Linked DNA regions of Homo sapiens: all the other regions are linked to region 6. Evidence: fine-mapped expression QTL. A gene starts in region 6. Each other region holds a variant in brackets. All regions are shown on one strand. Distances are from middle to middle.

Region 1 (5,036 bases), 180 kb after region 6:
GTTCAGCTGCAGACATTCATTATTACTTTGCAATTAGGGAGAGGCAAGTCCATTGTTGACCTAGGTTCATGGGAGGCAGAGAAGTAGATGGTCACTGGGTCCTACTGCAGAGGGCATGGTGGAATTGTCTACAGATCTTAACATCCAGACAGGACTCACCTTGGAGAAGCATGGGCTGCTGAGGAGTGTGGGGTCTGTGCCCTTTGCCTCCAGGGAGAGCAAGCACATTAAAAGGCTTTGAATGGGCTGGGCATGGTGGCTCATGCCTGTAATCCCAGCACTTTGGGAGGCTGAGGGGGGGCAGATCACCTGAGATCAGGAGTTCAAGACCAGCCTGTCCAACATGGCAAAACCTCATCTCTACTAAAAAATACAAAAATTAGCAGGGTGTGGTGGTGGACACCTGTAGTCCCTGCTACTCTGTAGCCTGAGGCACGAGAATCACTTGAACCCAGGAGGCGGAGGTTGCAGTGAGTTGAGATTGCACCACTGCACTCCAGCCTGGGTGACTCCGTCTCAAAAAAAACAAAAAACAAAAAACAAAAAAAGGGCCTTGAGTGCCTTCTCCACGAACTCGCTGCCTGTCAGTCACTGTTGCTGAATATTTCTCCCTGCTTTCTCTAATTTACCTTCATTAAAGTATTTTATTTATTTATTTATTCATTTATTTATTTATGTTTTGAGACAGAATCTTGCGTGACACCCAGGTTGGATGGCACGATCTCAGCTCACTGCAACCTCCGACCCCAAGGTTCAAGCAATTATCTTGCCTCAGCCCCCAAGTAGCTGGGACTACAGGCACCTGCCACCACGCCTGGGTAATTTTTTTGTGTATTTTTAGTAGAGACAGGGTTTTACTATGTTGGCCAGGCTGGTCTTGAACTCCTGACCTCATAATTCGCCGTCTCAGCCTCCCAAAGTGCTGGGGTTACAGGTATGAGTCATCACACCTGGCCTCAAAGTCTTAACAACTCATATGTCAACTTCTTAATTACCAAAAGAGAGAGAAGAAAACATCAGTTTGGGGTAATGCATTTAAAGGGAGCCCTCAGGCTGATTTCTAGGCCCCATCCGGTTCTCATCTGAGTGAGCAGTATTTTGAAGTTGCCTCCAAGAATTGGACTTGATCATTTAGTTTCCTCTCATTTCTAAGGATTCCTGGGATTCCAGGTCAGTGCCACAGGGGAACCTTGGAAAGTGTATATATGTCAGAAATTTAGAGGAAGAATGTCATCAGAAATTGGAACTTGAATCCACAAGAGTATGAGAGATAATTGCTTCCACTTTGGAAGTCATTATCTTGTGCCCCCAGAACTCTTATCTATAGAGCAGGCATGAGAACTATGGTTTAGATGGGCTGTTTGCACATTTTACTTTGTGCTACAAATTTTTTTGCTTGCTTTTCTCTCTGTGTGTGTCTCTGTCACTGTCATGGAGACGAACTGGATGAGGGAAAGAAGAAGGAGGCTGGGTGAGCAGGTAATTGTGCAGTAGCTGTTCTCCAGAGAATCCTACCCAAGGGTCATGGGTGATTTATGTTTTTCCTCCACCTTTGCCCAGACTTTCTTTCTACTGTTGCCTTTGAATAAACTGGAAATTTAAAAAAAAATCATAATTGCAGTTTCCTAAATCATTTGACACTCCAGTCATCCTGCAAGTATTGTTATAAGGAGTTTCCCACAGAACAAACTGGCTTACTTCTATCTTCAAGGATGGGATCAGTAAGCTTGGCTAGATTGTCCAGTTCATTTGGGCCCAAAGCAGATTTCCTCCTCTAACCCAGGCCTACCTAAGAGGATGCTGGGGTCTGAGTAGAGCTAGCCTAACCTCCATGGCAGGCTGGTGACACTGCTGACGCAGACTGGTCACTGCCCTGTGGATTGCTTTATTTTTGGGCAGAATTGCTACCAGTTATGAAGTGCAGGATGCTGTGTTGGTTAATTAACAGCTATTTATAAGTGGCTATCTATACGAGGTTCTAATCCAGAAGTTGGCAGGAAGAAGTAAAAGAGAACTGAAAAACAAAATGCTAAATGCAGTGTGGTATCCTGGATTGGATCCTGAAACAGAAAAAGAACATGAGTGGAAAAACTAGTGAAATCTGTATAAAGTCTGGAGTTTTGTTAATAGTAAGCTATCAAAGTTAATTTCTCAGTTTTGATGAATGTATCACAGTTATGTAAGATGTTAACAGGAGGGGAAACAGAGAACAACAGTATGTGGGAACTTACTGTACTTTCTGCAAATTTAAAATTATTCATAATTAAAAATTTATTAAAAATAAAAAGAAACACCATCCAGAGTCACCATAACTTTAGTAAAGTAGGTTCCTATTGACAGATTCTTTGAAGTTTTAAGTTTATGTATTTTTTCAAGAAATATACATTTTTACTGAATGCTTTATTTTGTTTTTATTTATTTATGATTTTAAATTAATTTTTTTGTTTGCTTTTTAGAGACAGAGTCTTGCTCTGTCACCCAGGCTGGAGTGCAGTGGTATAATTACAGCTCACAGCAGCCTTGAACTCCTGGGCTCAAGGGATCCTCTTGCCTCAGCCTACCCAGTAGCTGGGACTAGAGGCATGCACCACCACACCTGGCTAGTTATTTTTTATTCTTATTTTGTAGAGATGGAGTAT[C/T]ACTGTGTTGCCAAGGCTGGTCTCAAACTCCTGGCCTCAAGCAATCCTCCTGCCTGGACCTCCCAAAGTGCTGGGATTACAGGCGTGAGCCACTGTACCCTGCCTGAATGCTTTATTTTGAGTATTTTATATTAGAAGATATTTCTTGATGGAACTAACACAGAAAAGCTAATAAATATGTGATTTGTTTTGACCTTTTTGTACAATCTGTATCAGAGACCAACTACTTATTAAATGGTGAGTGGAAATCTCAGAATACTTTCCATCTGGGTCCTTCAAATTGGGACTTAAGGACCTTCATTGTGTGCAAGGTTTGATAAGCAAAAGGATGACTTCACCCTACTGGGAAAAGATGGTATTACTGAGCAATCAAAGATAAAATTACAGGATTATAGACGAGATACAACATGTTTCAGCTCTTCTCCTTGTTAAAATCAAGTGCTCAGAACTTTTCATAGGAGGACAGAGTTTTATATCCAGAGAGATTAACTTTCCAGTGACACAGTTTCACAATGATAGGTATGCTAGCGTCCAGGGAACAGGAGGAGAAAAGGCAGGTCCACGTGATACCCATGGGCTTCCTGGAGAAACTGCTAATGACAAAGCTCCAGCTCAGTCTGACCAGCTAACAAAGTAAAAAGGCCTAGGTCTTTGTTGATATCTCAAGGAGACTTGCTTTTAGAAACCTCCGTGGAGCACAGAGTAGTAATGAAGATCTCCTGCTAGAGGGCGAGACATTTGGACCCTAATCAAACTGACTCTCTCTTATTTATTTTTATTTATTTTTGAGACAGTCTCGTTCTGTCGCCCAGGCTGGTGTGCAGTGGCACGATCTCAGTTCACCACAACCTCCACCTCCCAGGTTCAAGCGATTCTCCTGCCTCAGCCTCCCAAGTAGCTGGAATTACAGGCATGCACCACCACACCCAGCTAATTTTTGTATTTTTAGTAGAGATGGGGTTTCGCCATCTTGGCCAGGCTGATCTCATACTCCTGACCTCAGGTGATCTGCCTGCCTCGGCCTCCCAAATTGCTGGGATTACAGGCATGAGCCACTGTGCCTGGCCCAAACTGACTCTCTCTTAAGTAAAGGGAGGAAGGGTCCAAGGAAACACCTCCTGTAGTGGATTTGTGGCATTCTTTAGCATGGGGCTGACTCTCTCCGAGGGCTTGATCCCCTCCCCATATTTCTGATGCAGCAGGTCTGGCGAGGGGCCCTGGGCATTTGCATGTCCAGCAAGCTCTCAGGTGACACTGATGCTGCAAATCCGGGTACCACATTTTGAGAATCCAGACTTTCTTTTCTGCGTATCATGAATACAGTTGAGATTTGAAATCTTTTCCCCTATAAAGCCCTCCATTAAAGTTATATCTTTTCTTTAGGTCTGATCCTTTTCTTTTCCTCTGTGCTGAGTGATAAAGATAGCAGTGGAAATTGGAGGACAAGTGTCTGTCTCTGATTGGCTTCTCTACAGAACTGAGGACCTGAGGTAGCACTTGGGGTGATAAAGTTATAAAACCACAGGCGCTTATAGGCTTGGGCAGAAAACATTCGTGTTGATGCCTTAGCAGTTTTTCTCCATGACTTGGAGGGCCTGGCTGTTGTCAGGGTTGCAGGTTGTTTGGAAGTCCACATGGCATGTAAATGGACCCACAGGGGAACCTGCTGAACGAAGGGACCCAGATTAGTGAGGTGGGCCACGCTGGTGGCAGTGCCAACTAGAGACATCTCTGTAGATCTGCCCCATGCATGTCTGGGCTTCCTTCCAAAGAGCGAAAGGAGATCTTATCTCGTAAAGCACACACTCTCTCTCCCCTTTCATCTGTTAACCCTATAAAATTGTGGGATGAGGGGTTTACTTACTCTAAATAATTATTTTTCAAAATTTGATTTCTTTTTTAAAAGTAAAAAAGTATCACCTACTGTGGAATGTTTAGACAATTCATAAAGGACAAAGAAAAAAATAATTTTGCATAATCAGATGTATATATATATCACCTTTTTAATATTTAGAGGCTTGCCTTTCAGGTTTTGTTTCTACTCTTGCTCTTTCACACATGTGCAAATCTTTCTGGGTACTATGTAGATCATGGCTGTTGTTGCCTCTTTATGGCTTTGCCTCTCACTCTGGGTACCAGCTATGTCTTTATAATCAGCTATAAGGCTCTGTTTGGTAGTTATCATTTCCCCATCACTGCCTGAGCTCATCGCCTCTTACTCCCTCTCCTCTCGTTTGGCTGGTTTCCTTTGCTAATCTGTGCACATGCTGCTCACCTCATGCTCAAGGCCTCTCTACTCACTGTTCCTTCTACTTCGAATGCTGTTCCCCAGTTCCTCACTTCTTTCTGGCCTTTATTCAAAAGTCCCTTCCATAGCGAGGTCTTCTTGGACCCCTT
Region 2 (5,036 bases), 130 kb after region 6:
AAGTCACCCCCAATACTTCTCAGGGGCTTTAAGAGTGTATATTGGTAATTATATGAATCAACTTTCTTTTGTACAGGCTTATACCTAAGAATTGAGAGACTGAATATATAAAGACGTTGTCTGGAGAATAAGAAATGGTGTCTTATTTTTGGGCATTGAAGCCATTGCTGGGTCCGGGGCCAGGGATGACTGCTGTTCTGGGTGAGTGGGTGCAGTGGCTCACACCTGTAAACCCGGAACTTTGGGATGCTGGCAAGAGGAACACTTAAGGCCAGGAGTTCAAAACCAGCTTGGACAAGATAGTGAGACCCTGTGTCTACAATTTTTTTTTTTTAATTAGCCAGGCATGGTGGTACATACCTATAGACCCCGCTCCTCAGGAGGCTGAGGCTGGAGGATTGCTTGAGTTTAGGAATCAGAGGCTGCAGTGAGCTATGATTGTGCCACTGCACTCCAGTCTGGGCAACAGAGTGAGACACTGTCTCTAAAAATAATAATAATAATAATATCGAAGGTATAGATTTTTCATAAGGCCCAACTGACATAAGTCATATTTATTTAGCATTTTGTTTTCAAAGCACTTTCTGCATGTATTATTATTACTGATACTCTCTCCACTAGCACGCTGTATTCTCAGAAGGATATAATAACACTTTATTCTACTCACCTCACTTCCTACTCAGATTCTGTGCTCCCAGGGGCTGTGAGAGGTTTGCATCCCAGTGTTAACTGATTGAGAAGAGCATTCACATCTGCCCTGAATACCCCCAGCGTATGGCTTTGTAAACAGAGAAAATGTGTTCCTGATTTCCCACACCCTGACCATGTATGAACCCTGCTCCCACCCCATTCATAGGAACTCGAAATTTACTTACAAACGCAGTGAAGGGCCTATTATACTTCTAAGGTCTATTGTTGCCATTTCTACTTCAGGCCATTTGGCTTTTGCTGTTGTTGTTTTAAACACCCAAATTCATTTCTATCTTCTGTTTTGACATTGTCAGCTGTTTAAATTTTCTCTTCACATGCTTTTATCTTTAGAATCCTTACTCGGATCTTACATTTTTTTTCCCCCTGGAAGACATTTTTCCCTTGGGGCCACAGAGTAAAATTAAGTGAGAAATAAATTGTTATGGTCAATTGCCTTAGAGAAATTTTCAGTAATCCCTCCAGCGTTAGAGACAGAAAGGACTTCAGTGTTCACGCAGTCCATTGAGAGTCTCCGTTTTTCACCCTTTTATTATCTTCAGACCCGTGGGTCAGATGCTTTGGGAAAAAATGATCTGTATGGGAAACAGCATTTTTAAGTAAAAAAGGTGATTTAGTTTTACCTGGGTTTTTTTTTTGTGTGTGTGATACTTTGATTTTTGCAAAATGTAAGTAACTGCTGACCAAAATCGCAAGTCAGTTTTAAGTAAACAGTATTTTTATGTGGGGTTAAGATAATTCCCTCTAAACATAGAGAAGCTTGGCATTTGGTTAGTGTCATCAGTGTTACTACTCTTAATATACATGCTTTCCTTCAGATCTGAAATATTCTGCATAGCTTGAGAAGCTGAGTGTCACTTTTACAAGTCCCTAAACATCCTAGAGTCTAGATGGGGAAGAATCAATCTAATCTAAACCCTTCTTATTACAAAGGTGAAAATAAAGAAGTACCATGACTTGACCAAAGTGGTCAGACCTGAGATTAAAATCCTGCTTCCCTAAATGCTATTCCTAGTCTTTTCCCACATATCTTGAAGTGGTGTCTTATTTTTTGGCCTTGTAACTGTTATGGGGTCTGGAGCCAGGGAGCATTGTTGTTCTGGGCAGGGTAAAAATAGTGGCTGGCTTTTATCATGCACTTTCCACACGTGTTCTAAATGCTTTATATATATGAGTGATCTTTCATCTTCACAAGCCCTGGAGAAGGCAGGAGTTGTCACTGTCCCCACTTAGCAGAGAAGCAAACAGAGAGATTAAGTAATTGACTGTGATCACCCAGCTAGTACTTGACAGAGACATGGCTGGAAAAGTAGAAAACAAAAGGAGATCTACTCTGATACTGTAAACTAGCTCCACAACATCCCATCGTAAGACGATAACGAGCATCTGCAAAGCGCTGGGGGACATGGACACCTTCCCCAACACAGATCAGGATCTAGTGGGGAAGTCAGATGTGTAGACCCTGTATCTCAATGCAGCATGATAAGTGCTACCATAGACATATGCCTGGGCATGGTGAAGGGTCCCTGGCCTCTCCTGATACGATGGGGCTAGATAAGTTTTCCTGGGGAAAGTGACACTGAACCACTTCTTAAAGGATAGATTTGGGTGAGCTAAATAAAAAAGAGTGGGAAAAGGCCCTTTTGAGTGTGCAGTCAGCATTGGTAATGTCTTCAGGGAAACAAACTCAGAGGCATTTCTTGAGTATGAAGTTCTAGCACTGTTGACTACCTAAGGCTGCTGTAACAAATTGCCACAAACTGGGTGGCTTCAACAAAGAGCATTTATTCTCTGGCAGTTCTGGTGGCTATAAGTGT[G/A]AAATTGAGGCATGGGCAGGGCCTTCCTCTGGAAAGTCTGACTGAGAACCTCTTCCTTGCCTATCTCATAGATGCTGGTGGTTGCTGGATTTGAAACTGTACCACAAAAACCTCTGCCTCTTCTATCTTTTCATTTTTGTTTTTTTTATTTTTAGAGATGGGGTCTTGCTCTGTTTCCCAGGCTGGAATGCAGTGGCATGATTATAGCTCATTGCAGCCTCGAACTCCCAGGCTCAAGGGATCCTCCAGACTTAGCCTCCCAAGTAGGTGGGATTGCAGGCATGCACCACCATACCTGGCTAATTTAAAAAAAAAAATTTGTAGAGATGGGATCTTGCTGTTTCCCTGGTTGGTCTTGAACTCCTGGCTTTGAGTGATCCTCCCACCTCAGCTTCTCAAAGTGTTGGTATTACAGGCATGAACCACCACACCTGGCCTTCTTCTCTGTGTGTATCTCTGTGTGTTCTCTCTCCTTCTTATAAGGACACCAATAACTGGATTTATGGCCCAATATAATCCAACATGACATCTTCTTAACTACGTACATGTGCAAGACCCCATTTCCAAATAACATTGCATGTCCTAGGTTGATATGAATTTGGAGGGGGACATTATTCACTTAGTACTATGGCAGAGGCAGGAGTCGAGGTTGGGATGGTGGGACATTGTGCGTAACGTTGACATTTACTTTGTCAAATGTCCCCTTGTCTTCTCAAGTGGTCTGCTGTTGACTTCGTGGTCAGTTCTCAAAGACAGATGCGTTTACCAACAAGTGCTGTGTGTTTGGCTTCCAGCTTAAATAGTACCCAGCACTGAGAGTTAGAAGTGGAGATTCTATCCCCAGTTCTGCTACGCATGAGTTTCACAACTTTGCTTTAGACTTTCTAAAACTCAATTACCATGGTTATAATCAAGCAATATAATTGCTGTCCTGACTGTCTCTCAGAGTTGTTAAGGGACTCAAGATAAAGTCATGTTTGTGAAGGTGCATGATAAATTGTAAAGTGTGTGTCAAGTATTCTGTCGTGGAATTTTTTCTTCTTTCTTGTGGAGTATCTCCTGATCTATGGGCCCTTTCATAATTAATCAATCAGCCAATTTCTACTGAGCTTCTACTATGTACAGAGTACAGAGCCGCATGCTGTAAAGGACACAGAAAAAAATGAAATATGGAGTTCATCAGGTAGTTGGAGAGAAAAGTCATACAGAAAGCAATTTAAAAACAATCAAGGGCTAATTTGTGTGGCCCTGCCTCTAATGAAGTTGATGATCAGAGAAGTGATTTTTTGATGGAAGCTGGAGTGCTTAACAATGGCTTCCCCAAGGCAAAAGCTTTAGAAGGCTCTGGAAGATTTGTACCATGACGGGGCGCCTGTTCTTGGTGGAGCTGCCTGCTGTGCAAAGCCTTAGAGGGAACAATGAGGAAGGCCTGTGGGAGACCTGGTTAGGCAGAGACTTGCAGGGGCCCTTCAAACTGACTTTCATTCAATATTTATTTAGAAAGCCCCTTTGAAAAATTAGCAATACATATGTTGTTTTATATTCAAAATAAGGAATCAAGTCCATAACCCAGTTATAACATTAAAACTTGTTTGGAATTGGATCTCTTGTGGATAGCTATAGTTACACACATTTGGCCAAGATAGAGATTATGTTTGTGGATATAATTATGAAGTACTATATGACATATGTTTAAAATTTCCCTTTATTGCCTTTTGTTATAGCAAATTATCCCCCCCTGCCCCACTGCCCCAGCCCACCCTCACCTTTCTTTCTTCCTTCTTTTCTCTTCTTCAGCTTCCTTTTGTTAATTTCCGAACTAGCAATTTCTTGGGAGGACAATTAAAGGTTTATAATGTAGGTAACACAAATCCTTCATTTTTAGGAAACCACATGCAGTATCGGGTTCAGGATTGTAGCTGACCATAGCTGTCAATTCTACGTTGGCCAAGCCCCAGGTTGGTGATAAAATCTGCTGTAGCTCTGTGCAACTTGCAGGTGCATGGTGCAAAAGCACGAGAGAGAGAGAGAGAGAAAGAGAGAGAGACCGCGACAGAGAGAGAGAGAGCATGACAGAGAGAGAGAGAGAGAGAGAGAGAGAGACTGTGACAGAGAGAGAGAGAGAGAGATCTTTGCGGTCAGAATGTTGCCTCGACCATGAAAAAAGTCAGCTTTGCCAGAAGCAAGAACCATTCAGAGTTAGTGAGTGGAAACTTGGCTTAACAGGAATTTTGTTTTTTCTGACTTCTTTCATTGCAGATTTTGTACTGTTTTTAGTTAGGTGACCCAAGATGCTGCTTAGCTCTCCTACCCCCAATCTGGTTCTGGTGAGGGTGCTGCGAAGCAGGGCTAGAGCCTGGGGTATGTTTGGGGAGGGATGGAGACTGGGTTGGCCAGTAGGAGGGGCTCGGTTCCTGAGGGCAGGTGAAAGATTTGCAGAAGCAAGTGTATGCCAACTTACAGATGTTTCCAAAGGGTCAAATAAAAGAAAAAAATCAGCACTTAGGTAAG
Region 3 (5,036 bases), 150 kb after region 6:
CTCATGAGACTTATGCGCTTCCACAAGAACAGCACTGGGGAAACAGCCTCCATAATTATTATCTCCCACTGGGTCCCTCCCACAATGCATGGGAATTGTGGGAGCCACAGTTCAAGTTGAGATTTAGATGGGGACACAACCAAACCATATCTGATAGGGAGTAAGAGAAATCAACAAAAAAAGACTGATTAGAATGAGCTAGTGGGTCTGTATTCCAAGATCAAGTTCTGCTTAGAGATGCATTTCTTAAAAAAAAATAAAAGCCCTAAGTAATTGTCAATGAATTAGAAAAACAGAGAGAAAATATTACTGTGTTCAATACCATTCTTGTTTTAAAGAAGCTAAACGAATACAAAGAGTAAAAAAATATGGTGTTGGCATTTGCACATTGGGGCTTTGCTTGGAGGAACACAACTTGTCATTACTTGGCTGTGATCCAGCCCCAATATTTAAGTCTAGCCAGAAGAGAGTTAAGATATTTTGAACAGCTCTAGATGACAGCACACACAGCCCTGAACTGTGTGCATGGAGCAGCTGGTTGTATTCCCCTCCTTTCTGCTTATGGGTGGTGTTATTCAGTCATGGCACAGTGACTTTAATAGATATTAAAAATGCAGCTATTTGAGCATGTCATTCTCAAAGCCCCATTGAAATGCTCTACAGCAGCATATGTGACTGAACATGGTACAAGGCCATTACCTGCCTGCAACAGGAACCATTCCTTTTGATCTGTGACTCCGTATAGCAAAATAGTTTTGTAATCACGTATAATTCATCTATTAGTTTTGTCTTTGTGCCAAGCATAGTTAAAAGAAAAATCATGTGGAAAAGATTATTTTTATTGTGAATTCCTGATGGAAAAAGGCATTTTCCTTCAAAGTTATTATCTCGGTTTTACAGCTGACCTTTAAAAGAGTGTTTATGACTTTAAATACTCCAGAGCTCAGCAAATATTATCCTCCATATAATTTTAGATAGTCATTATAGCTTTGTCTATAAGCACTGAGTATGTATCATAAGACACAATGTTGGTCGTTTAAAATTTTTGATATTTTATTGTAAAAGAAAAAAATCTTGTTTCATTGGTACATTGAGTGATGATTGACCTTTTCTTATTAAATTTCCTCTTCACATTTCATCTGTATGTAATCCTAGAAGGTCACTGGTTGGCATTAGCAACCCCAGAAATGAATGGTCATGATGTCACATCCTAGAATTAACAAATTAGTTTGTTTGGTCTCTCATTATCTATTATATCCCTTACTGTAATGGGGGATGAAAAAATTCAAGATGGAATTGTGGCCTGCAATGTCTTGAACACCAAGAATTAGGGATCTTCAGTGTGTCCCTCCTCCCACCTCTCTTACCATACATACTTTGCATTTTTATGTGTTGTTTTTTTTTCTGTATGCTTTATGACATACTCCTGGGCATGAGTTTTCTGCTATCATGGCTGATGATGCAAAAAAAAGGGGAAAGAGAAAGAAGGGAGGGAGAAAGGGAAGAAATAGAGTGCTATCGAGGGAAAAGTAAAACCGAATCATAACCAAGGAATATCTGAGCCTGGAAGGGTTTATATGGCTTTTCAATGGAGTCTTGCCACCTAGAAATAAAATAGAAATCTATACTCCTGTGTGCATTTCACTTGGACTTCCAGAAAGGCTGGGAGATCATGGGCGAGTCATGTAACTTCCCTGCATTATTTCCTCCTCTGCAATAAATGATCAATTGTTCCTTTCTAATTTTAATAGCATGTGATTTAAAAGCTCCTTGGAAACCAATACCATGATTTAATAAACCAAACGGATCAGTGGATTGTTGATAATTTCAAGTAATTCTTTTATTTTATCATGAAATCATTATCCATTTTTATAAACCATTAATCCAAGTTTCGTGCGTATTCTGGCATAGCATAAGTAGTGAGCACAGCCGGGAAGGGTCCCTGCCCTCCATTGAAAGTGGCAGCTCTCATAAGTGCTATGGATGAAGGGTCACGGTCCCTGGGAGAGCACGTGGGGAGAGATCACCAGCCTCGGAATGAGGGAATTTTTCTGCAGCAGTGATTCTGAGTGGCATCTGAAGGGTGCACAGGCTTTTACTGGGTAAGAAGGTTAAGGAAGAGCATTCCAGGAAGAGGGACAGCATTATGAAAGTTTGGGGAGAAACGGAAAGAAGGCAAGTGAGGCTAGTGCAGAACAAAGCAGGATGTCGTCATAGAAAAGGCTAGCATGACCAATATGGTAGGAGCCAGACCATGTGCGGTTTTTAGGGAAGGAGTGACAATATCATTTATCATCCAAACATGACACTTCTAAAAGTGAAAGGGCACTATTAGTAGTAAAACTGGGCCGGGCATGGTGGCTCATGCCTGTAATCCCAGCACTTTGGGAGGCCAAGGTGGGCAGAGGTCAGGAGTTTGAGACCAGCCTGGCCAGCATGGTGAAACCTGTCTCTACTAAAAATACAAAAATTAACTGGGTGTGGTGATATGCGCTTATAGTCCTAACTACTTGGGAAGCTGAGGCAGGAGAATTGCTTGAACCCAGGAGGCAGAGGTTGCAGTGAGTTGAGATTGCGCCATTGCACTCCAGCCTCGGCAAGAGAGCGAGACTGTCAAAAAAAAAAGAGAAAGAAAGGAAAGAAAGGGAAGGAAAGGAAAGGAAAGGAAAGGAAAGGAAAGGAAAGGAAAGGAAAGGAAGGGAGAAAGAAAGAAAAGAAAGAAAGAAAGGAAGGAAGGGAGGGAGGGAGGGAGGGAGGGAGGGAGGGAGGGAGGGAGGGAAGGAGGGAAGGAGGGAAGGAAGGTGGGAAGAAAGAAAGAGATGTTAACCAGGAGTGGCAGTTCCTCTGCGGAGCTCAGAGGAGAGATTTGGGTGGAAGAGTTAAATTTGTGTGTGAGCTCTGCAGTTGAGAACGTCTACCAAGAAAGCTTGAGGAGAGAAGAAAAGTGAGCCGGGAAACCTACTGGCTGCGAAGATGGTGAGACCACCAAGGAGATCTGGAAGAAACAGGCAGGTAGGAGGAAAACTAGGAGTGTGTTGTGTCAGGGAAGCTAAGGGATGCTTAGCTGAGTACTAACAAATTAGT[T/G]CTAGAGGATGAAATAAAAATCATGTGCATTTTATTACTGTATGTTCAATAACATATATATTGAGTGGACCATTTTTGTTTCCTCAAGAGAGGAATTGAGTGATGAGCAATATAAAACACCAAATGTCCCTATTTTCTTACCTTCACAGTGATTTTGATGATCTTAGAGATAGGCGTAGGAGAAATCCATCCTCTGGCTGGAAATGGGGGAATATTGCCTGGCAGATCTGGCTCTGAACATTGTCCTAAGTTAAGGAATGTGCCATCTGCCGTCCTCTTTCGGCACTTATTCTCTCTCAGAGCCATCGTGCTTGAATTTCTAACAGGATCTTCACCCTATTTCCAGATCCTTGGCTTGGGAAAGGACCTTGTAAACTCATTTATACTAAGGTGTAAAGGATTGATAAGCCTAAGTCTATTGTTTTGCTCAGAGAACTACACCTGAAACAACAATAAAACTGTCTCTGTTCTGGAAAATGCAGTTTTCTGAGTGTGGGGAGGATGTTCTGAACCTGCCTCTTTTACTTGAATTACTTGCTTGTAGTTTGCTTTTAAATACCTTCGAAATAGAACCCTAGGGTCACACAATTGTAGACTTTGGGGTGCTTTCAGTCTAGAGTAATCACACCTCAGAGGACTTATCTTTCCTTTCTCTCCAAACCTGCTTCCTCTTTTAAATTTCCTTTTAGAATTTGATTAATAACACCAACTTCTTCCCTTCTTCCCTTCACCCAGGCTAGAAACGATTGAATTATATTTGACCTGCTAGCTCACCACATCCGGATGCTGTGAGTCGGCCCTGCCTGCCACTGCTGGCTTCATCTTTGTCCCTTCCTGTGGTTTCAGAGTGAGATCACGCTTTTATCAACTCCCCCTTGGCTTCATGCCTCTGCCTCCTGACCCTTGTTCCAAGTCTGTTTTCTTCTATTCAGCCTAGAAATTGTGCTAACAGAATTGCCTTTCTTATGTAAGGATCTGAACTTGGGCCCATCCTCTCTATACATCTTTGCTGGTGCATTTTCTCCTAAAGCCTAAATTTCTCAAAGCACCTATTGTCCTTCTAAGGGCTGCCGAACTAGAGCTTGCCTGCCTTACTTGTTATTTTTGTTTGACATTAGTTGAAAATTGCAGGATAGCAAGAGAAGAGACCAGCTAAAACATTTTACTCTTTCTTCATTCCTAGCCGAAGGTGGGGGTCTATCATTTTATGCCTCTTTGTGAAGATGCAAGTCTCAAACTACCCAAAAGAACCTAATACCTGGGGTGGGTGTTGCTTAATCATTCAATGGGGAGGAACTCTGTGGGTTACGGCTGAGCAGCTCCAGGAGGCTGCAGTGAGGAGGGTGCTGGAAGTGGAGTGAAGGCTTCAGCTTGATGTATTCTTTTGCTTAGGACAGAAATGGTGAGCCCTTGGGTAAATATTATCACATTTCTTAATATTTATTTAAGATGCCCTTATTTAAGATGCTGAAGAGCAGGGTGTTCCTAATATTTTCTAGAAATATAAAAGGAAGCCAGCGTGATGACTAAGCCAGCTGGACACCTGCAGATGTGTCTTGCCACCTGGCCTCGGCTCCATCTCCCTACCCCATCTTCACCCCTAGCAGGAGCAGACTGGCCTTTGACTTCTGCTGGCTAGGGACACGGACTCCCTGGATTCATCTGGATTAAGAATCCAAGACAGTAGTCATGATCTGTGAAGCAGTCTCTTCTGCTTCCCAGGAGGAAGAAACATCTTAACAGGTAGGGTTGGAGAATCCAAGGTCCCACGGAGGGGACTTGTCATAAAGAGGCCCTTCACAGGCCTGTGTTATCTCATTCTAGTCTCTATCTTTCTGGGCTCAGTGCTGGGCATTCACTGAGGTGAACCATAATCATGTCAAACCTGATACTCCTTGCTCCTGGGAGCATTCATTCTAGCCATATTTTTTCAAAGCTGTTCACCCTTCCAG
Region 4 (5,036 bases), 160 kb after region 6:
TAAATGTGCTCTCTGTGTTGTTTTATTTGCTGCAGTGGCTTCAATCACCACCCAGCCTGTTGACCTTCAGACCTCCTGCTTACTTCTGGACCTCTGTGCCCAAATGCTTTATAGATCTTTCCATCTGGAAGTTGCTTAGGCACTGCTTATGTCCAGTCAGAGCTACCTCTATTCCCTGTATTTCCAATCTTGGTCAATGAAGCCTGCCCAGTCAGCTAGGCTGGAGTCTATCTCACTTTTACCCCTATTTTCAGTCCATGAGTACCTCGTCTCTGTTGTTAGCTGCTTAGCCCCTCATCTCTTTCTTCCACCCGTCCCTCACTGGTTTTCACATCCTGCTTTGCTTCACTCCTGCCCATCCTCACAGACTGCCAGAGGACTGTTCTCAATTGCAAAACCCATTACTTCACGAGCCTTCCTCTGCTCATACTATTACCTCCAATCACTCCTTATTCTTGTGGACTGCCTCCCTTAACTCCTTTTGTTATGTATTTGTGCAATGCTTCCAAGAATTTTGGTGACTGGTTTTTCTGCTTTCTTTAGTTGGGCTCTGTGTGCCTTCTGGGCAGCCATGATGCCTCTTCATTTTGTACCTCCAAGTGCTTATATGGTACTTTTCTTATAGTGGGTGTTCTGTAAATATTCACTGAATGAATGAGAATCATGAGATGCCACTTGAGACTGTGAGCTAGACCTTACTGCTGAAAGATGTAAAAATAGCATTCCAGGAAAGCAAGAGTTCTGGGTAATATCTGCCATTGCCTGACTGACATTTGTTCCTTGATATTGGTATAATGTGGCCAACAGGGTCCCTCCTCCACCTCCTGTACATTTTCCTGGTGAGCTGTTTGCAGCAGTCAGGAAAGGTTAGAGGAGTTGTCATCATTTTTACCAGCTTGATGTGTTTGCCTGGACTCAGTCCTTCTCCATGTTCCTGAGGCTATTGTGGTTGAAAGATTCCTAGGAGATAAGGTGAGGTTGGTCAGAGTCTTCCTGATCCCCACTGATGGGCTGTAGGTCTGAATAGCATTGGTTGACTTTATACAGTGTTTCTCCCGCTCTGCACTGTGGCATTACTGCATCTACTGAGACATTTACTTGTCTTATCTGCATTCCTAAATAATCCATCTTGGATTCTTAGCTTCTAAGAAGACTGAATTTGAAAGATCTAATTTCCAGCTTCATCTCAGCTACCAATTTACTGTGTGCCCTGGGACAAGTCACTCCCACTCCCCGTGCCTCTTTCTTTCTCTGGAAAAGGAAGATGCTTCCCGAGCGCCCATCCAGACATGCTGTTCTGGGACTCTGAGTGTTGTGATGGGTCCTGCGGTTAAACGTCCATATGTCTTTGTTTACAGTGTCTTAATAGTGAGACACTGAACTCACTGCTTTACAGAGACTATTGAATACACTGAACACCATGCTTAGCAAATTGTGATTGCCAGCTATAGGAATGTCCCTTCTGAGAGGAGAGTTGAAAAAGTGGCTATAACACAAAACCTGTTTCCTCAAGCTTTATGATGGGTTAAATTCCTGAAACCAGCTCTCAAATATTTTTTAGATCCAGTTTCTAACTCATATCCTTTATTTTAGTAATGCTTTTAAAAAAATCTGGCACTGTCTGAAAATGGACTATTCTAAGTAAGTATGTTTTTCAGATAACTGACTATGACTCTATGAGCACAAAAACTGAATAGTGCTCTTTTTATAAGGATGGAAATCCTTACAAAACGTATAGAACATTGTCTTGTCCTATAAAGAGAAAATATTGAGTATAATATAATTTAAATTTCCTATGTGACTAAAGTCATGTCTTTTATTCCTTTATTCAACAAATACTTATTAAACTCCAAATATATGCTAAGCACTGTGCTTAAGTAATGGGTATCTCATGTCTTACTTTGCAGATGTATTACCACCAAAGATTCCTCCTTATTGCTTCATTTATACAAGTTGACTGTTTTGATTTTATATATTAAATTTGGAGTTCTGAGCAATGATAAGGCAGAGTTTCTGCCTAGAGCATCAGATTTGGTGGGCAATTCAAACTGTCACATGCTCAGTCAGTAAAAAGCTGAGTCAGCTGTGTCTCACACCAGCCATTTTAGTCATCTAGACATAGGCGTTCCCACAACAAAGAGTCTGAAATAGCAAACAGCAAACTCAACAGGCTCTGTAATCTTTAGGTCCCAGTAGATTCTAATTTTATTTTATTTCAAGCAAGAGGGCATTATTGCAAAATATTTAATTTCTGTATTAATGTCTTTAGAGATTTTTTTAAATTTTGGACAATTCCAATCATATAATTTTTTCTTTAGGAGATTTTCAAGATTGGCCTCCAGTAACCTTGAAAACAGCCTTAAGTCATATTATGGGATGGTGGTGTTCTGGAATAGTTGCTGTTAAATGTAAGGTGACTCCTACTTTCCCTTTGACATTCATTTTAAACCTGGAGATGGTTTCTACAGAGAGTTGGGAGAACAGACTGGGGAATGTTTTCTAATGAGAGACGGGTGATTACCAGAGTCTTCCAGAATGTTAGAGCATGCCGACAGGCTACTTCTACTCTCTCTCTCTCCGCTCGGTTGTACTTTTCCATCTCCAGAATCTTTCACCTAGGGCACAGGGCAGTCTCTTCACAAGGAAATCGTCTAAATTTACACCCAAAT[C/A]TTCCAGACTTTGTTTTCTTTTATTTTGTAAAGTCTCACGAAGTCAATTGTGGTTCACACGCAGGTGCCGATGATACATTACATATTTCACACACTGCATCTTAAAACTGGGGCTTGTAACTCCTCTTAAGTGCCATTTAATAATGTGCCAGGGTGTTTTTTATTGTTGCAGTGGGGTGTTACAGGTACTTAGCAGGAGAGGCCAGCCATGCCAAATGTCCTGAAATTTGGAGAGCAATATTTCGTAAGTAAGACTAGTCCCATCTAAAATGCCAAACGTGTGCCTATTGAGAAATAACTGCCATGTCCAGCGCATTCCTTGTAGCTTGCTATCCTCATTCTGTTAAGCATTGTTCATCTTTCCTACTTGCAACCACTAATGGTTAAAATCCTGCTATCTTTGAGTCTTACCTAGGAACTACCTTCCTTGTGGAACTCTCCTTGAATTTCTTGCTGGAAATAGTGTCTCCACCATTTTAGTGTACATAGTATCTTGTTTTTACAGATCACTTCTGGATGTAGCTAATTATTAATATCTACCTCCAAGGTGTCAGCACCTTCAGGGCAAGGATGTGTCTTACTCAGAGTATTCCTGGAATACCATGGGGATTCATGGCAAGGCTCAGGAAACATTTGTTGAATGAATGAACGAGAGTTGTTGAGTAATAGAAAACTCTTCATTCCTGCTAATTTAGACCTGTTCTAAGGCTGCCTTTCACAACCAGTATTTCTTAAACTGGATCCCACCTATAATAGTTATCTGAAATCCCTGCATATGTCATTCTTAATGAAATCTGAAAGCAGTGCCTAAGGCTCCACCAAGAACAGCGATTCTCGTTGGCCTGTCCCTGAAATTGTCTTGACACAACTTGTAATAGGCTATGACTGCTCAACAAATCCAAAAGCTTCTGCATTTCAGCAACTTGTTAACAGGCCCCCAAACAACTCTAGTTAATTCTGTAGAATACACAAGATTCACTTTGAAGTATATAATAATATTAACACAAGTCCTGTGAGTTAACATTGTGACTAGGCATGCATTGCAAATTAGATGCAGTTACCCTCTCTCTGACTTTTTAAAATGTAGAACATAATAGAGTTTCAAGGCATTTTAAGCTTGGAAATGAAATATACCAGATTTTTGATTTTTGCAAAGACAATGACAAACTTAATGAAAGACCAAGAATGGGTCTGTTCTAGTCACTGAACCCCCTGCGATAATTGTCTGCTTGCAAAGATGAATTCAGGGCTCTTAAAAAAGGATGTCAGCTCCCTTTAACTGTGCTCAGATTTTTAAGTTAAAAGTATGGAGGTCAGCCAAACATGTTGGGTTTTGCTTGTAAGCCCAGCTACTCAGGAGGCAGGATTGCTTGAGGCCAGGATTTCAAGACCAGCCTGGGCAACATAGCAAGACCTCTAAGATAATGAAAATTAAAAATTAGCTTGGTGTGGTGGCCTGTGCCTGTCAACCCAGCTACTTGGCAGGGTGAGGTGAGAGGGTCGCTTGAGCCCAGGAGTTCGAAGATGCAGTAAGCTATGATCATGCCACTGCATTCCAGCCTGAGCAACAGTGCTAAACCCCCAACTCAAAAAAAAAAAAAAAAAAAAAAAAAAAAGGAGGTCTTGCTCAGCCCAGGTCTGCCAGATGTCCCTGGTTCCCAGTGTCTGCCTTTTTCTTCTTCCCACAGTTGAGGCCACTGGGGCATCCAGGCCTCAGGGCCTTTTTGGGAAGAGATGATGAAGGCCTACCCCATAACGTTGGACACCAGTATCAGTCATGCTTGCTCCAAGGCTTATCCTGCCCTCATGGACCTGTGGATATTTTGGATAGCTATAGACTGTCCTTCCTCCTCTGCCCCTGTGGCATCTTGGTAATTTAGCTGCCACTCTGGAGCAGGTGCCTGTTCCTACCAGGGAGAAGAGTCCTGGATATGAATCCAGCCCAATGGCTTGGGCCCTGCTCACTGCTGCCCAACTGTACAGATGCCAGATGCCTCTTTTCTACTTGGGTTCCTAAGGCTGCAGGCCCTGGCACCTCATTGTGCTGGCTCCAGCTCTGTCTGGTGCCAAGTGTGTGCCTAGGCTGACATCTCTTTCTTGCTGGAGCTGACTGCCTGCCAGTACCTGCTGCAGGGTCTGACCTTCCCGTTGTAGGCACTCTTCTAAGGTCCCTTTGTCTTTTTTTCTTTTTTTCCCAATTTTTAAAAATTGGGGTAAAACATGTATACATAAAATTTACCGTCTTAGGCATTTTAAGCATACAGTTCATTGGTATTAAATACATTCACAGTGTTGTGCAAACATCATCACTGTCTGTCTCTAGAACTCTCTCCATCTGATAAAAATGAAACTCTATACCCATTAAAC
Region 5 (5,036 bases), 110 kb after region 6:
ATGTAGAATATTGAAAGTGAAACATAGGATTTTTTTGTAGGTAAGGAAATACAAAATTAATGTAAAAGTATTTTCTGCCTCAAAGTCCAGTCAGACTAGTTTCAACCCCATAGCTAGTTTTAGTCTTTTTAATCCCAGAAAGAGGTGAACTCATTGCATGCTGTGGGTGGATAGCAACACTGGTGGATTTTGAAGCAACCCACCCGGACATGGAGTTATGGCCCCTCTGCTGTGCAGCGGCCCTCCTGATGAAGTTAGCTGGTGCTCATAGCTATCCAATTTATTGACAAGCCAGTGGACACCAGGGCACAGGGCTGGCCTCCTATAGCTTCCTTGTCTGTGGGCTATAAGGGAGAGCTTCGATTTCTCAGGCTAAGACAAAACATGGCAGAATATGCTGCTCAGTGTAGTGAAAAGTGTGCTGGTCTTAGAGTCCGTAGTTGGTCAATAGCTATTATTTAAAAAAATCTATGTTCTGAGTTCTGGAGATCTAGCAGTGAGCAATTCGGACTATTCCCTGCCCTCAACAAGCTTATATTGCAGAATGCTGGATGTGGGTGTGGGGAACTACATGAGCAGAAGATGGCCCAACTCAGCCATGAGCCAGGGCGAAGGACCTGTGTGACCTTGGCTGGTTGCTCAGCCTCTCTGAGCCTTAGGGTTTTTGGAGGATCAGAGGAGATGGGCTATTGATAGTATACATGAAATCACTTTGTAAATTGTACATTACTCTCTCAGTGTAGTTTCTGTGGTTATCTGTTTTCAAACTATAACCCTCTGCTTTGGAAGCGGGATTTCCCAGGCTTAAGTACTTTGGAGCTCCTAGGAGCGCTTCCATGTTACCTCTTATTCCATCATGATTTTGGAACCTGGTCACATCTGTGCTCCCCTGCACTCTCTGGATGCCATCCCATGCTCCTCCAGTCCCTTCTGAACATCTGTTCCCTGAGTGGGTTCTGGATATTTTTTCTAGAAGTTTTATTATTTTAGGTTACACAGTTAGATTTATAATCCATCTTGAGTTAATTTTTAATATGGTGCTGATATAGATCAAAGTTAATTCTTTTGCTTATGGATATCCAGTTGCTTCAGCATCTTTTATTGGAAAGAGCCGCCTTTCTCCATTGAATTACCTTTGCTTCTTTTTCAAAATCAATTGACCATATAAATGTGAATCTCTTTCTGGCCACTGTGTTCTGTTTTCATTAATCTGTTGGTGTATATTGATAGTAATACCACACTGTCTTGATTACCATAGCTTTTTGATAATCTTGAAGCAGGTAGTGTAAGTTCTCTATCTCTGTTCTTTGCTTTCACAGTTGTTTTGGCAATTCTAAGTGCTTTGCATGTTCAAATGCATTGTAGAATCTGTTTGTCAAATTCTACAAAAAATGGCTACAGAGGTTTTCATTGGAATTGCATGGAATCTGTAAGTAACTTGTCAGATAATTGACATCTTAACAATATCAAGTCTTTAATCCATAGTATTAATATATCTCTCAATTTTTTTGTTTTCAATTTTTCTCAACAATGTTTTGTATTTTTTAGTGTATAGGTCTTGCACATATTTTGTCAGATTTATCCCCAAATATTTCATATTTCTGATAGTATTATAAATGGTATTTAAACAATTAAATTATAAATGTTATTCTTTAAAATTTAAATTCTCTATGATCACACCACTGCATTCATTCTGGGTGACAGAATGAGATCCATCTTTTTAAAAATATCAATTTCTAATTTTGTGTTGCTAGTATGTAGCAATGCAATTGGTTTTAGATATCAATCTTGTATCCTGAAACATTGCTAACCTATTGATTAGATCTAGAAGCTTTTAAAACCATTGTTAGCCTACCAATTAGATCTAGAAGCTTTTAAAATAGATTCTGTATTTTCTACTGCTACAATCATGTTGTTTAAGAATAAAAACAGTTTTTTTTCTTTATTTTGTGGAAATAAATGAAGACCATCCAAATGAAAACAAACAAAGCGTATTTATTCAGAGCTTGCTATAGCAAGAGAGTCAGCCACAATCATTTGTGTTTAACAGAGACTCAAAGGCAGGCAGGGGAGTGGGGAAGCTTCATGGTGGAAAAGAGAGGGAATCATGTATGCCTTGACTGGAGGTATTGGCATGGGGAAGCTTTAGGTGGGTTAACTAGAAGTGGGGCAGTGTACATGACTGGTTTGGGGTGGATATTTGGCTTTTTTTCCAGTTGGTTCTAAGTTGGAAGTGGGAGCAATATGAGAAAAGCTGTCAATTACTCATTATATTCTGGCTGTTCTGTGCTGATTGCTACAGGAGTTATTGTTTGGCTTTATGGGCTGTCTGCTACACAGTAGTTTGCCTTCCTGGACTCATTACTGCAGATAGTAGGTTGGCTTCCCAGGCTGATTGCTACAGTTTGTGGGTCAGAGTACTATTTGTTTTTAATTTTTAATTTTTGTGGGTACACAGTAGGTATGTATATTTATGGGGTACATGAGATATTTTGATACAGGTATACAATGCATAGTAATTACATCAGGGTAAATGGGGTCTTCATCCCCTCATGAATTTGTCTTTTCTTTGTGTTACAAACAGTCCAATTATACTCTCCTAGTTATTTTAAAATGTATAATAAATTATTATTGACTCTAGTCACCCTGTTGTGTTATCTAATTTTTGTTTTTATATATGGTCTGACCATTGTCCATTTGCATATTCAGTCTTTCATTTTGCAATTTTGATGCACTGAATTTCTTTTTCTTGCCTTATCATGCTGGCTAGAACTTCCCAGTACAATATTGCATATAGAAAGGGTGACAGTAGACACGTTTGCCTAATTCATCTTGGAAAAAACATTCAGTCTTTCACCATTAAGTACAACGCTAGCCGTAAGTTTTCATAGGTGCCTTTTACAGGGGTGAGGAAGTTTCCTGCTATTCCTAGTTTGCTGAAAGTTTTCCTTTTTAAATCAATTTATGTTTGAGTTTCTCACACCCTTTTTTTTTGGCATCTATTCCACAGTTGCAATGTTGATGTGAATTTTCTT[C/T]TCCCTTCTTCGCCTTCCCTCTCTCCTCCCTCCCTCACTCCCTTCCCTCCCTTCCCTTCCCTTCCCTTCTCCTTCCTTCCTTCCCTCCCTCCCTCCCTTCCTCTTTTCCTTCCTCCCTCCCTCCCTTCCTCCCTCCCTCCCTCCCTTCCTCTCTCTCTTTCTGTAGGTATGATAAATTCTATTAATTGATTTTTAAATGTTAAATCTACCTTGGATTCCTGGGACAAATATCCTTTGGTCATGATGTATTATTCATTGTATATGTCCTTATATTTGATTTGCTAAAAATTTGTTAAGAATTCTTATATCTATGTTCATGAATGATATCAGTTTGTGTTTTTTTTTTTCCTTGTAATGTCCTTGTTTTTGATATCAGAATAATACTGGCATCAGAATGAGTTGGAAAGTATTCCCTCTTTTTCAATTTTGGGAAGAGTTGGTGTACAATTGGTGTTTTTTTTGTTAATGTTTGGTAGAATTTCTTAGTGAAACCATCCAAATGTGATGTTTCCTTTGTGAAAAGATTTTAACCACAAATTTAATTTCTGTCACCCAGCTGAGATTGTGCAGTGGTGCAATCTCAGCTCACTGCAAGCTCTGCCTACTGGGTTCACGCCATTCTTCTGCCTCAGCCTCCCGAGTAGCTGGGACTACAGGCACCCGCCACCACGCCCGGCTAATTTTTGGTATTTTTTAGTAGAGACAGGGTTTCGCCATGTTAGCCAGGATGATCTCGATCTCCTGACCTCGTGATCCGCCTGCCCCGGCCTCCCAAAATGCTGGGATTACAGGCGTGAGCCACCGTGCCCAGCCTATTTATTCTTAAGCTTTGGTAGTTTGTTTTTTCAGGTAATTTGCTCATTTCATCTAAGTTGTAGAATTAATTGGCAGAGTCATTTATAATATTACCTGATTATTATTTTAATATATGTAGAAGGAGTCATGTTTTTTTATCTCTCATTCCTGATATTCATGATTAGTGTCTTTTCTCTATTTGTTTCCCCATTGGTCTGAGTAGAGATTTATCAGTTTTACTGATCTCAGACAACCAGCTTTTGCTTTCATTGATTTTCTCTTTTGTATTTCTATTTTTGTTTTCTTGATTTCCACTATAATACTTATATTTTTTCCTTTCTTCTGCTTTCATGAGGATTAATTTATAGTAGTCCTCCTTATCCATAGTTTTGCTTTCCACAGTTTCAATTACCCTCAGCCAACCATGGTCTGAAAACATTACAAGGAAAATTCTAGAAATGAACAATTCATAAGGTTTAAGTTGCATTCTTTCCTGAGCAGCACATGAAACCTCACACCATCCAGGTTCATCCCGCCCTGGCTGTGAATCCTCCCTTTGCCCAGTGTCTCTGCACTGTGGGTGCTCTCTGCCTGTGAGTCACACTTGTAGACCACACGGGTTGTCAGATCCACTAATGAGGCCTCACCATGCTTGTGTCCAAGTCACCCTTACTTGACTTAATAATGGCTCCAAAGCACAAAAGTAGTGTTGCTGGCAACTCAGATATGCCAAAGAGAAGCTGTAAAGTGTTTCCTTTAAGTGAAAACATGAAAGTTCTCAACTTAATAAGGACAAAAATTGTATGCTGAGGTTGCTAAGATTTACACAAGAATAAATCTTCCATCCATGAAATTGTGAAGAAAAAGAAATTTGTGTTACTTTTGCTGTCTCATTTCAAACTACAAAAGTTATGACCACAGTGTGTGATAAGTGCTTAGTTAAGATGGAAAGGCATTAAATTTATTGATGGATGACATGGACAGAACATGTTCTGATTGACAGCGATGGGGATTGGCACTATCTGTAGTTTCAGGCACCCACTGCGGGTCTGGGAACCTATTCTATAAAAGAAGACTGCCGTACTGTTCTTTTTCTAGTTTTATAAGGTGCAAGCTGAGGTCATTGATTTCAGATCTTTCTTCTTTTCTATTATAAGCATTTAGTGCTGTAAATTTGGGATGGCATTTCAAAGTCTCCATATAATG
Region 6 (5,036 bases):
GCCAGGGCAGGACTGGGACCAGAGCCTCACCAAAGACATGGAGATCCTAGGATAAGAAGGCTGAAGGGTTAGTTTCTGGATCATCTGAAATTTGATATTTTAAAAGCTTTCTTTAAAAGACGCTTTTATAATTCTCTCTTAAAAAATTCAGCCCATTTTGTCCTTTGCCATTTTTGAATTGGGTTATAGGTCTTGTACTTATTGATTTATAAAAGCTCTTTCATTTTAGAAACATTAATAATAAATATTTTACCTAGTTAAGAAAATTTAGCTGCCAAGTGATGTCTTTTCCATATGGTGACAAATACATTAAGGAGAGGGGAAGGTCAAAATTTGTGCTTTATGATTTCTTCTTAATTTTTAAAAATTTTTAATTTTATGGGAACATAGTGGGTGTATATATTTATGGGGTACACGAGATATTTTGATACAGGCATGCAATGTGTAATAATCACATTAGGGTAAATGGGGTATCTGGCACCTCAAGCATTTAGCATTTCCTTTTGTTACAAACAATCCAATTGTACTCTTTCAGTTATTTTAAAATGTACAATATGTTTTGCTGACTGTAATAACCCTGTTGTGCTGTCAAATACCAGATCCTATTCATTCTATCTAACTCTATTTTTGTACCTAGTAACCATTCCACCCCCGCCCCTTCCTAGCCTCTGGTAACCATCATTCTATTCTCTCTGTCCATGAGTTCAATTGTTTTAATTTTTAGCTCTCACAAATGAATGAAAACATGTGAAGTTTGTCTTTCCATGCCTGTTTTATTTCATTTAACAGAATGTCCTCCAGTTCCATCCATGGTGTTGTAAATGACAGGATCTCATTCCTTTTTATGGCTGAATAGTACTCCACTACGCATATGTACCACATTTTCTTCATCTAATTTATCTGTTGATGGACACTTACATTGCTTCCAGATCTTGTCTATTGTGAACAGAGCTGCAATAAACATGGCAGTGCAGGAATCTCTTCAAGATACTGATTTCTTTTTTGGGGGTATATACCTAGCAGTGGGATTGCTGGATCAGATGGTAGCTCTATATTTAGTTTTCTGACAAACCCCAATACTGTTCTCCATAGTGGCTGCATTAATTCACATTCTCACCAGCAATGTAGGAGGGTTCATTCTCTTTTCTTCACATCCTTGCCAGCATTTGTTATTGCCTGTCTTTTGGATAAAAGCCATTTTAACTAGGGTGAGACTTTATGATTTCTTGGTGAACAAGGAAAAGTGTTTAAGCTGTCCCCACCCTTTGATGGGTATGTTCTCTCTTCACGTGCGTAGGTTGTTGATGAAAGTCTAAGCGATTAATTTAAGCCATGTCAGAATAAACCAAAGTGAGGGTCCCAGCAGAATCATTCACTCTAGAATGCTCGGCTTTCTGGACCTCCCAGTGAGAACAGTGAGAAACTCCAGAGTTTTATGGATTTTAAGAATAGCTCTTCTGAGACTCTTTGGACAGGGTGCAAAGGAAAATTGTCTCCTCAGGTTGGGGGATGAGGGGGACTGTGAGATAAAGTACTGATAGATAAACTCCAGGTATGCACCTACTATGCTCCCCAAGCAATCTGCCATGTCCTTCACATGTCCTCCAGGGTGGCCCTGTGAAAAGCATTACTCCATCCCTTCAGCCCTCAACCTTGCTCGGCTTTCTAGAGTCTGTCTCATGCCGGCAGACACCCCATAGTTATTATTCTCTCTGCCCTCAGCAACATTTACCAGTTAGGGGGAAAATAAAGCCAGAAAATTGTTGCTATGGGCTCTGTTTTGTGGAAGTTAAAATGCTAGAGCAAGAATCTGATTGCTTGATAGCTCCATCTCTCTCTCTCTCTCCCTCCTACCCTCCTACCCCCCCACAGTTTCTCCTTCTTTTCCTCTCCCCTCCACCTCCTTCCCCCACCCCGCTCCCCCACATTTTCCTACTCCTCTCCCCTCTCTCCACTGGCCTCCCGGTCCTGCCCCCACATTGGGCTGGAGGAGAGCCTTACAGGTTGTCAATGAAACATGGAATTATTTCCTTTGATGGCTTAGATAATAGTAGGAGCCAAAGCAATGAGTGAGGTCGGCTGAAACCAATGCAGTCCTGCCCGGGACTGGAGAGCCAATCGCAAGAGCAGAGGGCGGGGCGTCGGAGCCAGCAGATAATTGCTAAGTGCATCGCTAGCACAGTTGGTCCGAGCTGCCGAAAGGTCTGGTCGCAGAGACAGGAACGTGTAATCCTCAGCGTGCTCCAGCCCACAGCTTCGCTCTACTGCTCGGCAGGGCAGCTGGCCTCTGGGCACCGGCGGCCCCTCTGCCTCGCGGAAAAGGTACCTCTGCCTGCGTCCCGGGGGTGCAGCGCCTGCGTCTCCATTGCCAGTGGCTTTGCAGTTTAGCCTAGGTGGAGGGATTGCAGAAAGAAAAGTTTCTGGGAGGGAATGTGATAAAGGTGGGAAATCACTGTCTTTTGTTGGGAGGAAAACAAGCGGACAATTTGGGAAACTTCTGCGCTGGCAAGAAATGGGCTTGTTTACTACTCCTAATTAGCTGCGCTCAGGTCTGTCTAAATAGGTCTGGTCTCAGGCTAGGGTGTCTGCAGGGCTGGGGTGGAGATTCGGGTGTGCTGGGTGAAAGAAGTTGGATCCCAGGGTGTGCTGTTTCCTGGTGCACCCATCATGGATAGGCTGGTTCCGAGAGAAACGTGATTGGTTGTTTGTGTTTTCCGCTATAGGGTCTGTCCCCTTCGTATTACCTTGATCTGCCTTCCCCAAACTATTGTGACCTTCAACTGGAGTCCTTCCTCAAACTTCTGCCTCCTTCCTGCCTGTCTCAGTTCATTTTATTTGGTGGAAGGAGACATTCCCCGGGGTGGGTGGGTGAGGATGGTCTATTCTGTTTGACCTGGTGGGCACCTACGTGACAACTTGGTGACACGCCAGCAAAACAGTTCTCAGAGGAGAGGAAATCACATAATTAATTAGCTCCCGAAAACTCTGGAAGACTTTCCAGGCTTGGGGTATCCTGAAAAAAAAAAAAAAAGAAAAAGCCAAAAAACGGGATAGAGAGTTCGGTTTGGTACCATGTGAAGCTTACACCCTTGTCCCCAGAAGGGGTGCCTGGCCCGGAGCATCCCCGCAGCTCTGGGAGGTGGAGGCTGGTGGAGGGGGTGGCTCCGTGTAGGTGCGCAGGTTGTTTTGGTGCACAGGTGCATTTGTGGCAGAGGTGGTGCTGAAGTCACCATCCACACTGCTTCTGCTAACTGCTCTTGAAGTAAAACAGCTCACCCCGGCAGGCAGCTGGTTCAGCCCAGAAGCACCCTTGAGCATTCTAAATCGCGAGACCTCAGGGGCCTCTCTTGCTCTGAGACCCTTGGGAAACTCCTTTCTCCCCCTGCCTCCTCCGCCTTTGGCTTCTGCTAAAGGGAGATATTAGGTAGGTGAGTCACTAGGAAGCAGGGACCCATGGGGAAGCAGGCGATGTGCTTGGTCTCGAACTTTCTTCCTCTTCTGCGAAGGCAGCTTCTGCTTGTGTGCCCACCGCACTTCACCAGTTGCGCTGCCTACCTGCGGGATACTCTGAAGCTGATAGTCTGGGGGTGATCTTCCAAGTCCTAGGGGCATTGAAGAGTTTAGATGATTTTCATCCCTCTGATTTCCGTTAAACCCGCAGCTGGGGAGTTCGATTCCCAGTCCTGACAAGACTGCATGTTCTGGGAGGGATTCTCCAGTGACACCTCTTCCTCAGGGCACCCTTCCACGGAGATGCAGATGACAGTCTTGATTCTCCAGCTCCACAAATCCCTTCCACTTTTTAATTCTTATTTTCTTTAACCACCACAACAGATTCTCCTCCACCTCCTGTAGGCAGCTATTTTGGGTGGGAACTGTGATTATTGAAACTCTATTCACAATGGTTAAAAAAATGCCTGCCCACTTTTTTTTTGGGGGGGGTGTCAAAATACCATCAGCGTTCTCTTCTGTACTTCCTATCTGACAGTAAACAAAACAATTTTGCAGCCCTGCCAATTATAATCTTTTTGTGTTTGGGGGGCCTGGAGCGGAAGCTGAACTTTTCCCAGCCGGTGGGCATGGTTAGTCATGGACGTCGTCCTCTGTGGCCTCTCCAGGGCACGTGACCCCCAGGGAGCCCAGGAGGGGCAGCCCCCAGCACGTGGGGGATCTTGCATGAGAGCACCTTGGTTTTCATGAAGGCAGTAAGGAAACCAGAAAATGCTTTTGAGTTTGAGGATTGCAAAACTGGGGGTTCCCTTTAATTGATGCCAATCTGTTGGATTTCTATCGTGATAGGAAACATTAAAAGTAAGGCATTTGAAACAGCTCCTGAAGGGTGAGTCATGCACAGAGGGAAGAGGCAGTGTGGGGGGAGGGGGCGGAGGGGGCCTTGGAAAGTACAAGTGGGACACGCTGGAGCGCTCGCTTTCCTTCCCTCTGCCTCCTCCTCAATCCTCTTTCTTGTATTTCCCCATTCGGAACAGAGATCATTAAAATAACAACTTTAGACCAAAAAAGGATCCTAGGAGCTGAAAAATAATTGACAAAGTGCAAAACACCCTCATTACAGCTTCACCTTGGATGGGGTGAGGTGTGAAACCCAGGACCCAGCGCCTCTGCTGCGATCCAGTTTGGAGAATCTAATTGCTGGTGTTAGGCTAATTAACTCCTTGTGAAGCTGCGTGCCTGTTTGTGTATGCAAGGACCGATGAATGCCTAGGAAATTAAATGTGTTACTTGTCATTTCATCAAACATGATGGCTTTGGCCAGGACCCTGGATAAGCACTATCCACAGACCCAGCGTTTTCTCCTCTTCCCAATTGGCCAAACTGGATCTCTCTCTCTTTTAACCACTATGGTGGGAAGGGGTTGTGTCTTTCTGCTTTTCCAAGCCCTGCGTGAGTTACCTGGCAAATAAAAGTCCTCTCCTTACCCCTCTGTCCCTCCATCCCTGTCATCCTTCTGTTATCCCTTTTCATCATAAACATATCAGTAAGTAATCTTTTGCCAACCTACTTTGATCTTGTCATTT

Direction of the effects. Alleles are on the strand shown, and positions count from the first base shown. SD is a standard deviation of normalised expression in the study named. Not every link is listed here.
In carriers of allele C in region 1, the expression in whole blood of the gene that starts at base 2,179 in region 6 tends to be lower than with T alone (large effect, 1.4 SD a copy in Lepik 2017).
For the expression in left ventricle of the gene that starts at base 2,179 in region 6, T is the high allele of the variant in region 3 and G is the other (moderate effect, 0.50 SD a copy in GTEx).

The links. PIP is the estimated chance that this variant, and not a neighbour inherited with it, causes the effect. A credible set is the group of variants that fine-mapping cannot tell apart.
Region 1: its variant is the best candidate, but not a certain one, in a credible set for the expression of ZMAT4 in whole blood (Lepik 2017, PIP 0.55).
Region 2: its variant is the best candidate, but not a certain one, in a credible set for the expression of ZMAT4 in whole blood (TOPMed, PIP 0.71).
Region 3: its variant is the best candidate, but not a certain one, in a credible set for the expression of ZMAT4 in left ventricle (GTEx, PIP 0.60).
Region 4: its variant is the best candidate, but not a certain one, in a credible set for the expression of ZMAT4 in whole blood (TOPMed, PIP 0.74).
Region 5: its variant is the best candidate, but not a certain one, in a credible set for the expression of ZMAT4 in whole blood (TOPMed, PIP 0.66).

Annotation. Positions count from the first base shown.
Region 1 is chr8:40,715,080-40,720,115 of GRCh38, reverse strand. All of the region lies in intron 3 of ZMAT4 (zinc finger matrin-type 4), which reads left to right. Among named protein-coding and RNA genes, the nearest start is that of ZMAT4, 180 kb to the left of the region's middle. The variant C/T (reference allele first, on the strand shown) is at 2,640.
Region 2 is chr8:40,760,299-40,765,334 of GRCh38, reverse strand. All of the region lies in intron 3 of ZMAT4 (zinc finger matrin-type 4), which reads left to right. Among named protein-coding and RNA genes, the nearest start is that of ZMAT4, 140 kb to the left of the region's middle. The variant G/A (reference allele first, on the strand shown) is at 2,526.
Region 3 is chr8:40,743,965-40,749,000 of GRCh38, reverse strand. All of the region lies in intron 3 of ZMAT4 (zinc finger matrin-type 4), which reads left to right. Among named protein-coding and RNA genes, the nearest start is that of ZMAT4, 150 kb to the left of the region's middle. The variant T/G (reference allele first, on the strand shown) is at 3,085.
Region 4 is chr8:40,732,084-40,737,119 of GRCh38, reverse strand. All of the region lies in intron 3 of ZMAT4 (zinc finger matrin-type 4), which reads left to right. Among named protein-coding and RNA genes, the nearest start is that of ZMAT4, 160 kb to the left of the region's middle. RefSeq lists an enhancer at 1,477-2,676. The variant C/A (reference allele first, on the strand shown) is at 2,670.
Region 5 is chr8:40,787,115-40,792,150 of GRCh38, reverse strand. The region is part of intron 2 of ZMAT4 (zinc finger matrin-type 4); the gene reads left to right. Among named protein-coding and RNA genes, the nearest start is that of ZMAT4, 110 kb to the left of the region's middle. The variant C/T (reference allele first, on the strand shown) is at 3,036.
Region 6 is chr8:40,894,969-40,900,004 of GRCh38, reverse strand. ZMAT4 (zinc finger matrin-type 4) reads left to right here and starts at 2,179. Exons shown (of 7, transcript NM_024645.3): 1 at 2,179-2,322.